3 separate regions of the Homo sapiens genome follow, and all the other regions are reported to be linked to region 3. Evidence: microRNA targets listed by miRTarBase, many of them from high-throughput screens and not tested one by one. Region 3 holds a microRNA gene; each other region holds the end of a gene's coding sequence.

Region 1 (3,256 bases), not on the chromosome of region 3:
AGAAAATGCAGTGTCATCTTCAGAACTGATGTCCCAGACTCCCAGTGAAGTTCTGGGTACCAACGAGAATGAGAAACTGAGCCCTACAAGTAATACCTCATATAGTTTAGAAAAAATCTCCAGTCTGGCCCCTCCTAGCATGGAGTACTGCGTTTTACTCTTCTGCTGTTGTATTTGTGGTTTTGAATCAACCAGCAAAGAAAACCTCTTGGATCATATGAAAGAGCACGAGGGTGAAATTGTAAACATCATCCTGAATAAGGACCACAATACAGCTCTAAACACAAATTAGGTGGAATAATGACTCGAGCAGGAAAGCAGTAGAAGAGGATTCCTTCACCACAGTTTCACCTTTACGCTGTCAGACAACTTCCTGCCACAGAAGAAGTCGTTGATGTGATTTTTGAGGAAATGACAGATGTGACTTTGGAACCAAACTTGTAATAAAAGGAATTCCAAATGGACAAGCAGTAATGATATTTAAATATTTTGAGTGAGGGGGAGTGGGTCAAAGAGGAAGTAGAGGTGTAATCCTGTATTAACCCTCTGTCACCCCTTCTTAGTGTCGAGTGTATTTATTAATAAAAGCTTATTAGAGTGTAGAAATGCCAGCAAGAGTTAAGAAAGGGCTTTTCAGGAACTATTCTAAAAGTCATAAAAGGGTCACAGTCTTAAGCAGAGCTTAGTTTTCTTCTCACTTGTCAAATGCAGACTGTGAGGCCTCCAGTGAGAAATGGGAGGCAGTTCTGGGAGGGGGTTTTTTCAGTGTCACCAACAGAGTCAACAAGGAAACATAATTAGAGGGCTTTGAAATGATCTACTGAAATACCTAAATTGATAGAAATTAATCATACTCAATCTAGGACATGTTCCTTTACTCCTTAAAAAAGAAAGGAAAGATCTCTAAATTCAAAGCTAGATTGTAAATAGGCATTCAAGAAGTATTGTCTTAAATTTACGATGAATTTCTTGTGAGCAGAGGACGAAACAGGTGAATTCTCACCAGACTCAAACCAGATCTCAATTCGTAGTAATGCTAAATCGTCTTCCGTGTTCTCAGAGGTTCTTTTCAGTGTCTGTCAGAACTTGGCATACTTTCTCCATAGTACGTAGACCTTCTAATACTCTGCTAAATGAAACCACACTTGTTATCTGAAAGTGTGTGAAAGAAACAATGTATGAAAATTTACATTTGATCATCCGGCATTGGAAATAGTTTGAACTATTTCCAAAAATCCCTTAGGGGATGAGGGGTGAAATTTAAAAGCTCCTGAAAATGAGTACTGCTGTGTTGAGCTTTTCTTTCCTGGGGTATATTAATTTAGTTATATTTAGCAGAAGAGGAATATAACCAAATGTGACTAAAATATAGCAGAAATTCAGGTTGTTTGTAAAAATTTTAATAACAAATAGCATTTGGCAAGTCTATAGGATTCTTCCTATCTGGAAATTCTATTTTGTTAGAGTGCGATAGGACATATGGAAAACCAACACAAAGTGCTTTAGCATTAAAACTCACCATCAAATAGATGTAATCTTATTAATTACACATTTTGTATTTTAATTATTTCAAGGAGTGAAGAAAACAGGGTGTTTTTGTTTTTGTAGTTCTGATTACTCATTTATGCATTGTTTTGTTTAAGTAAATTCTGCCTACAAGTGAAAAGGTCGGTGCGCTCTTCTGTGCACCATCCTCACGGTGCTATTTCCGAATATCTGAATATTGATTTCTAACACCTGGATGAGGCTGTGACCGATCAACTTGGAACACTGTAAAGGTTTTCGAATGGGATACGCTGTAGGCACGTTTTAAGAAGTATTCTGTTCCTAAAGTCCAGGTATGATTGGATTAATATTTATAAAATTATTATTAGGAATTATTTAAGTGGGGCCAGGCATCTTGCAACATTTTCTGATTTTTTTTTCTTTCTTTCTAATCTCATTTTGGTGATATTTAAACAAACATAAATGATTGTAACTTTGCAGCTTTTTTATTTAGGTAGCTTTAATTTATTTATGAAAGTTAATCCATTTCTGATACGTGGTTTTTAAAAATATGAAATGGATTTATATATACTATATTCCTCAAATCCACTGTATGTGGACTTATATTCATTTTCTCCTTTTTTCGGAATTGAAACATTTTAATTTCAAATTCAAATAGAACATTTAAAATGATTTCATTATTATTACCCATACTGTTGCCACTCATATTGTAAGTCAGTTTTTTCATTGCTGGTACAATGACTCAGTATTTCTTTATAAAAATCTGTTGTTCTGAAAATCAACAACCTTAGAAGGATTTTGTCTTAGAAAATTTCCTTGGCTTTAGTTTTATATCATATTTAGAAAATAATAATGAAAAGCATCCCCAAAATTTCAATGATGTGAATTTTTAAATTACCTTTATTTCTTTAAACTAATTCCATTGATTGTTACTTAAATTTTCCACCTGGAATCATGGATTTAAAATTTCCCCACCTCATGGGGAAAAAACTAACCCAGAAGTTCAAAGCCTTTAAAGTTTCATCTGATTCTGGCCTTAGAATTGTCCTTAAAAGCTTTCTCCTGGCCGATAGGAGGAAGCATATATCAAGGAGGTTCTTTCCCTTCCCATTATCATTTTGTGGCAAGCCTTAAGTTAACAATGTGTCTACCAAGAACAATTGAGTTTTCTAAAAGTAATAATGAAGATTATGCAATTCTAACTGTAGAAGAGATAGCTATTAAAATAATCAGTAGCCTGGGCATAGTGGCTCACACCTGTAATCCCAATACTTTAGAAGGCCAAGGCTGGAGGACTGCTTGAGTCCAGAAGTTTAAGACCAGCCTGGGCAACACGGGGAGACCCTGTCTCTACAAGAAATTAAAAATTAGCCAGGCATAGTTGGCACGTGCCTGTAGCACCAGCTACTTGGGAGGTTAAGGTGGGAGGATCACTTGAGCCTGGGAGATAGAGGCTTGCAGTGAGCCGTGATGGCACCATTGCACTCCAACCGGGGTGACAGATGAGGTCCTCTGTTTACCTCCCCCCCCAAAAAAAAAATTCAGTAGGAATTCCTTCATAGAATAACATGTTATTTATTGGTATTGACTTCTTATTAGACAGAGCTCATAGTATTTGTTTTCTGCTCCGAACACTTAAAAAATACTAAGACGTGATAGTGAAAATAGCTTTGAAAAGAAACTACATATGGCAAAGGTGGGGAGGGGGGAAGATGATGCATTCTGATCATTATAAAGAATACTTTTCAGG
Region 2 (3,256 bases), not on the chromosome of region 3:
GGCACATCAGAGAGTTTCCAGTGTTTGGGGAAGGGGAGGGTGTACTTCTTGTTGGAGTGATTGATGAGCTGCACTATACAGCCAAGGGGGAACTGGAGCTGGCGGAACTCAAGACACGCAGGCGCCCTATGCTCCCTCTGGAAGCTCAGAAGAAGAAAGACTGTTTTCAAGTCAGCCTATACAAATATATCTTTGATGCCATGGTACAAGGAAAAGTGACCCCTGCTAGCCTAATCCACCACACAAAGTTGTGTCTAGAAAAGCCACTGGGGCCATCAGTGCTGAGGCATGCCCAGCAGGGAGGCTTCTCTGTGAAGTCTTTGGGTGACCTCATGGAACTTGTCTTCTTGTCTCTAACACTGTCAGACCTCCCAGTTATTGATATCTTGAAGATTGAGTATATCCACCAAGAGACTGCCACTGTGCTGGGTACTGAGATTGTAGCCTTCAAAGAGAAGGAGGTGAGAGCCAAGGTGCAGCATTATATGGCCTACTGGATGGGCCACCGAGAGCCCCAGGGAGTTGACGTGGAGGAGGCTTGGAAGTGCCGGACGTGTACCTATGCAGACATTTGTGAGTGGAGAAAGGGCAGTGGAGTGCTCAGCTCTACACTGGCGCCCCAAGTCAAAAAAGCCAAATGAATAGAAGGTATGCTTTCAAGAATGTTGATCCTTCCTGCTCCTGTTGTACCTAAGCAAAAGAGGACCAGTCTCTGAGCTTGGCTTTTATGGAGAGTGTTCTTATTTTGGTTCTTTTTTTTATTTCCACAACCTCTAACCACATTCAGTCCAGGACCAAGGCTCAGGGATGAGTGGGAGAGATGGGTTATACTGTCCCTGGAGCTTCATCATGATTGCCTGAGAAGACAGATGCTCATCATGGCTGGAATGAAGGTATCCTTCAGTAAACTTTGCTTTCCTAAGAAAATTCTTCAGTTTCTGATAAGTCATCCCTATTTTTATCTTGATCAAGGCTTTCTACAGTTACATAATAAAATGAAATGCTGTCCAGGACAGTTGAACTGATGGTTTTTTCATAACTGCAGTCCTTCAAAGATGACCACCATATATAGTTGTGTACGTGTTATTCCAAGCCTTTAAATATATACATAAACATATTTTGGAATCAGAATGAGCAGACCAAAACATAAACAATAAATATTCTCAAAGAGACAAGGGAAGATGAAGTAGAAACAGGAAGTCATAAATATTAGATACGAAAAACATAATACATGGCTGGGTGCGGTGGCACATGCCTGTAATCCCAGCACTTTGGGAAGCTGAGATGGGTGGATCACCTGAGCTCAGGAGTTCAAGAGCAACCTGACCAATACGGTGAAAGCCCGTCTCTACTAAAAATACAAAAATTAGCCTGGGGTGGTGGCGTGCGCCTGTAGTCCCAGCTACTTGGGAGGCTGAGAGAGGAGAATAGCTTGAACCTGAGAGGCAGAGGTTACAGTGAGCTGAGATCATGCCACTGCACTCCAGCCTGGGCAACAGAGTGAGACTCTGTCTTAAAAAAAAAAAAAAAAGAAAAATAATACATGAAGTAACATGTAACATTCACATATTGCAATCCAGCAGTAGCACTCCTGGGTATATGCTGGAAGAAACCTACATGTGCAATAGAAAATGTGAACATGAATATACTTTGTAGCACTTTCACAATAGCAGAAGCCTAGAAGCTACCCAGGTGCCCATCAGCAGAAGAGTGGAAAATGTACAGTAGCCAAAACAAATGAGCTACAGTGACATAAAACAATATGCATGAATATTAGCAGCACAACATTTGGTGAAAAAAGTCCTGAAAATTACATACAGCATGATACCCTTTTTATAAGGTGAAAAATAACATTTAAAGGAAAATGTAAAGGTAGTGGAGAGGAATCCCAAGCCATCTTAGAAGGCAGTGGAGCTCTTAACTACAAACATCATCAAAGCAGCTAGAGGAAGGATGATACGGACGTCACCTGGAAGATAAGGACTTGCTTGTGACACTACTGGAGAATTTGCAGAAGTCAATGCATGGGGAGGGCAATTGGCAGGGGTAGAGTTTCTGTATTAACTGGAACATTAAGAGCCAACAGAACATGGTGAATGTTGTTAGTATGATTCCATGTTATACATGAGCTGGTAAATCCTGGACATCTGTAGGAGATAAGGTAGGTTGTCTCTGGAGGCCCTTCTTCACATACTCTTCTTATGGACCCTGGAATCTTATGATGACTCTTCACTGAGTGACTCTTATGGCCAGGCACTGTGCTAAGCACATTATAATTAAATCTGTATCCATTATCTCCAGTGAGGGAACTGAGGCCTAGAAGGGTTATATAATTTTCTCAGCTGGGTGTGGTAGCTCACACCTGTAATCTTAGTACTTTGGGAGGGGAAGGTAGGAAGATCACTTGAGGACAGGAGTTCAAGACCAGCCTGGGCAACATAGCAAGACCCCATCTCAAAAAAAAAAAAAAGCCAGGCATGGTGGTGCATCCCTGTAGTCCTAGCTACTTGGCAGGCTGAGGCAGGAGGATCACTTGAACCCAAGAATTCAAGGTTACAGTGAGCTATGATCATGCAACTGCAAAAAAAAAAAAAAGTTTCCAGGGTTCCACTGTTTGAAAGTGGTAGACTCCAGGCTAGATATGTCTGACGGCAGTGCTTATGCTCTCAATCATTATGCTATTAAAGTTTTCTTGTTGAACATCCTGGACTGTATGTTATTATAGGCCCTAGTAAGTTTAGAGTTAAATGAACCTAAATTCACTGGACCTATGGGATAAATGGTATTAAGCTAATAGTCTTCAAGAAAAGAACTTGCTCAAGTTCTATAGCATCATCTTAGTTATACTAGAAGTTTTAAGAACAGGAAAAAGGGCTGGGCGTGGTGGCTCACCTGTAATCGCAGCACTTTGGGAGGCTGAGGTGGGCGAATCACCTGAGGTCAGGAGTTGAAGACCAGCCTGGCCAACATGGTGAAACCCTATCTCTACTAAAAACACAAAAATTAGCTGGGTATGGTGGTACACACTTGTAATCCAAGCTACTCGGGAGGCTGAGGCAGGAGAATCGCTTGAACCCAGAAGGCAGAGGTTGCAGTGAGCCGAGATCACACCACTGCACTCCAGCCTGGGCGACAGAGTAAAACTCTGTCTAAAAAAAAAAAAAAAAATTTGCCGGGCGCGGTGGCTCACGCCTGTAATCCCAGCACTTTGGGAGGCCGAGGCGGGCGGATCACCAGGTCAGGAGATTGAGACCAT
Region 3 (3,256 bases):
ATTCATAGAAATGGGGAAGTTAGGAGGTAGTGCATAAGGCTGTACAGTTTTAGACATAGGACATTGGAGGAGATGGAAAGTCATCTTCAGGTGGTTAGAAACCCAGGGCCACTTTTGGTTGGTGTTCAGGAAGGGAAGTGCAGAGAGGTGGAAATCTCAGCCACAGGTCAAACACTTCCCTGGCCCCAGATTAAAGACCAATCCAATTAAGCATGAGAGCACACGAGCCACACAAGTCGCACAAGTCAGTAACGAAAAGGACTCCCAGGTGATCTTAAGTCACATAATTAACATATTTTCAGGGCCCTACTTGTATGTGGCCCTGAAAACGTTGAGACTAATCAGCTGGAATATATCCATTTTTTTTTCTCCTTCTTTTTAAAACCTTATTATAGAGAATTTTAAAAATATACAAGAGTAGAAATAATTCTAGAACGAACTCCCATGTTTTCATTACCCAGCCTCAACAACGATCAAATCATAGCCAACCTTGTTCCATCCCAACCCTTACCCACTTCTCCCTGCGTTATTTTGAAGCTAATTCCAGACATAAATATTTCAGTCTGAATTTCTAAAAATAAGGACTCTATCCTTTAAAAATAAGCACAATGCCATTATCATGCCTTAAAAAATTAACTATGGTTTCTTATATCAAATATCAAGTCAGGTTCAAATTTCCACTAAAGTTTTAAGTTTCCATTAAAAGCAGTTGATTTGAATCAGGATTCAAATTAGGACATCAGGTTGGGATTGGTTGGCAGGTTTTAAAGTCTCTTTTACTCTTTGGGTTTCTCCCCTACCCTCTGGAGAGAGCTCCCCACACCGTGGCTTTGCTGACTGCATTCCTTGGGTGGACTTTCACTTGTGCCTCTGTCCTCGACATGTCCTGTAAGCTGGAAGCCGGGATCAGATTCAGATCCATTTTTATTTTAAGTGTTATGCAAAAAGACACCCAGTGAAGGTGTTAGAATGAGCCATGGCAGTGGATGGGGTTCGCAGGACCCCTGCGGAAGGGGGACGTTTAAGGGGCAAGCGGAAAAGGAGACACCTGGAATGGGGGAGGAGGAGCAGCGGGGCGAGGCGGGGGCGGTGCCGCGTGGTCTGCGAGCCCGGATATTCCCTGGGGAGCGCACCTGCGACTTCACCTCCAGTCCCTCCCCGGCTGGGGCAGCGGGGCGCGGGCGCTCGGGAGAGGTGGCGCTGCCTACTCGGCCTCATCTTGCTGAGAATGCGACGGGGCGACAGCTTCCTGTCTTTTCCAGTGGCTTTTGGCATCCCCAGAGGAAAAAACGGGGAGACCCGCTTTGGCCTCAGGAAGCGCAGAAACACTGTCCTGGCTGCGCGCGCAAGGGCGAGAACCTAGGGGACCCGCCTAAAGCGCCGTTGGGGCTGAGCACCGAACTCGCACAGCTCCGGGCAGCGACCCGCGATGCGGCATCCTTCCGTCCGGTCGGAGCCCTCCTAGCCCTCAGCGCGTCTATTCCTAGCTTCGGTCCCCGCAGCCATATAAGCAATGACACCCTCGCCGACTCGCCTGCCAGCTTGGCCGCCTCCCTGCAGAGGGCTGACGCTTCTCCAGAAGTTGTAAGAAAAGGAGGGAAAGCAGGCCAACCTCGAGGATCTCCCCAGCCTTGGCGTTCAGGTGCTGAGGAGATCGTCGAGGTTGGCCTGCTTCCCCTCACTCCTCGGGCCTTGCTCTTCCCCCAGGTGCCCACTGCCCTCCCTGCTGTGTACCACTTTCTTGCTGCCTGTGAAGGTATTTGTCCTCACTCTTGTGCTGCTCCTTCAATGATAGAACTTTGGGACTTTCTCATCCAGCAGCACCAGCCTGAAAAAGCAGTGGCTTGCACCACCACACACATACCTGGTCTCAGGTGGGTGGATCAGGGCAACTTGGCCACTAGTGCCCCAGTAATGCCCATCTGCCCAACCTCAATGCAGGAGCAACAAGTATTTCTCTGTCTTGGAGAGATCTAGAAAAAGGCTGAACATACCACGAGGGTGTTGCTTCAGAAGAAAATGCTGGTCAGGGTTCCAAGCCATCATAGGAACTTGTGAGCTGAGAAACATGGTCAACTCTACTCTCTCTCTCTTCTCTACCTACCCAGGCAGCCACAAATCTCAGTGTCAGTCACTGCTTTGGTTTGACATCTAAGGGCTCTGTTACAAGGGTAACTAAGATGAGTACCAGTAGATGCCCAATGACACTTGTAAACATGAAAGTGTATACCAGTATAAAGGATGCTGCAGCCTCAGCCTTGAAAAGTAAGGCTTTTAGGGAATGAAACAAAGGATAGTCAGGTTCTTAGGGGACAGGGAGGGTTCTGGCATGGGGAGCAGCCCTGGGCAGGTCTGGGGGTGCTGCGAAGTAGGGCACCGCAACATAACGGCCCTGTGTCTTAGGTGGCCAGGAAGGGGAAGGCAGGAGATACAGAAGGAAAGGAAACTAACATTTTATTGAGACAGGCATTGTGCTGGTCCTGAGGTTTATGCGAAGATTAATTTCTGGGGGTGAGAAGGTAAAAAATGATGAGGTGGAAACCAGCATCTTCTGTTACTCCCATCTGTGCAGAGTTAAAGAAGACTTGAAAGAAGGGGATGTGAGTGGCAGGAAAATCCCCAGTGACCGGCCCTGAACCTTCTGCCAGCGCAGCTCACCTCCTCCCCAAATGCCTCCCAATAGGATCTCAGCCCTAAACAAGCACAGGGCGTGGGGTGGTACAGATGATGATGTAGCTGCTTCTGAGATGCCCCTGGGCGCTGCTGGAGCTGAGCCCTGGGACTGGAATGACTTTTGCCCGCTGCCCTCAAAATTCCCACAGGCCACACCGCTACCACCTCTTGGGTAAAGTAGGAGGGACACATCTCCACCACCATCCAAATTGTTACCTAATGAGGAATTTTGCCAGGAACTACTTACAGCCCAATGGAGCCAGGCTGGGTATTTCCAGGACATGAGCCATTTTCTCTGTGCCCACTAAACAGGGTGCAGGTCCCTGAAGCCCTCAGGGAAGCTGCAAAGGTTACTGGGGTCGGCTCTGGGGCAACAGCTGACCTCTTAGCTCCCACTGCAGGCGTAGGAACCTCCAGGACAGCCTGTGGGGGTGGTGAGTCTGCAAAGCTGGCTGGCTAATGAGGGTGCAGTGCTGGTAGTGTCTGCCTTATGCTTTTTTTTTTTTTTTTTTTTCTTTTGGAGACGGAGTCTCGCTCTATCGCCCAGGCTGGAGTGCAGTGGTGAGATCTCGGCTCACTGCAA

Evidence for each region. The annotated mature microRNA hsa-miR-3150a-5p reads CAACCUCGACGAUCUCCUCAGC and lies in region 3 at 1,645-1,666, opposite strand. An mRNA with a match to its seed (bases 2 to 7 or 8) in the 3' UTR can be bound and repressed. Matches are read on the target gene's strand: a 7mer-m8 pairs with bases 2 to 8, a 7mer-A1 pairs with bases 2 to 7 and ends in A, and an 8mer does both.
Region 1: the mRNA of ZNF507 is a reported target of hsa-miR-3150a-5p. Seed matches in the 3' UTR shown: 7mer-A1 at 2,919-2,925.
Region 2: the mRNA of EXO5 is a reported target of hsa-miR-3150a-5p. The part of its 3' UTR that is shown has no 7-base or 8-base seed match.

Annotation. Positions count from the first base shown.
Region 1 is chr19:32,382,792-32,386,047 of GRCh38, forward strand. It overlaps ZNF507 (zinc finger protein 507), which reads left to right. Exons shown (of 7, transcript NM_001136156.2): 7 at 1-3,256. The coding sequence ends at 292. Among named protein-coding and RNA genes, the nearest start is that of DPY19L3-DT, 21 kb to the right of the region's middle.
Region 2 is chr1:40,515,026-40,518,281 of GRCh38, forward strand. It overlaps EXO5 (exonuclease 5), which reads left to right. Exons shown (of 4, transcript NM_001346953.2): 4 at 1-1,013. The coding sequence ends at 641. Among named protein-coding and RNA genes, the nearest start is that of EXO5, 7.9 kb to the left of the region's middle.
Region 3 is chr8:95,071,335-95,074,590 of GRCh38, reverse strand. It overlaps MIR3150A (microRNA 3150a), which reads right to left and starts at 1,677; the gene lies at 1,598-1,677. It overlaps MIR3150BHG (MIR3150B host gene), which reads left to right and starts at 1,409. Exons shown (of 2, transcript NR_132986.1): 1 at 1,409-1,662. It overlaps MIR3150B (microRNA 3150b), which reads left to right and starts at 1,595; the gene lies at 1,595-1,680. LOC124901980 (a long non-coding RNA gene) reads left to right here and starts at 2,338. Exons shown (of 2, transcript XR_007061013.1): 1 at 2,338-2,845. It also overlaps a transcript of NDUFAF6 not described here. RefSeq lists a silencer at 1,103-1,202.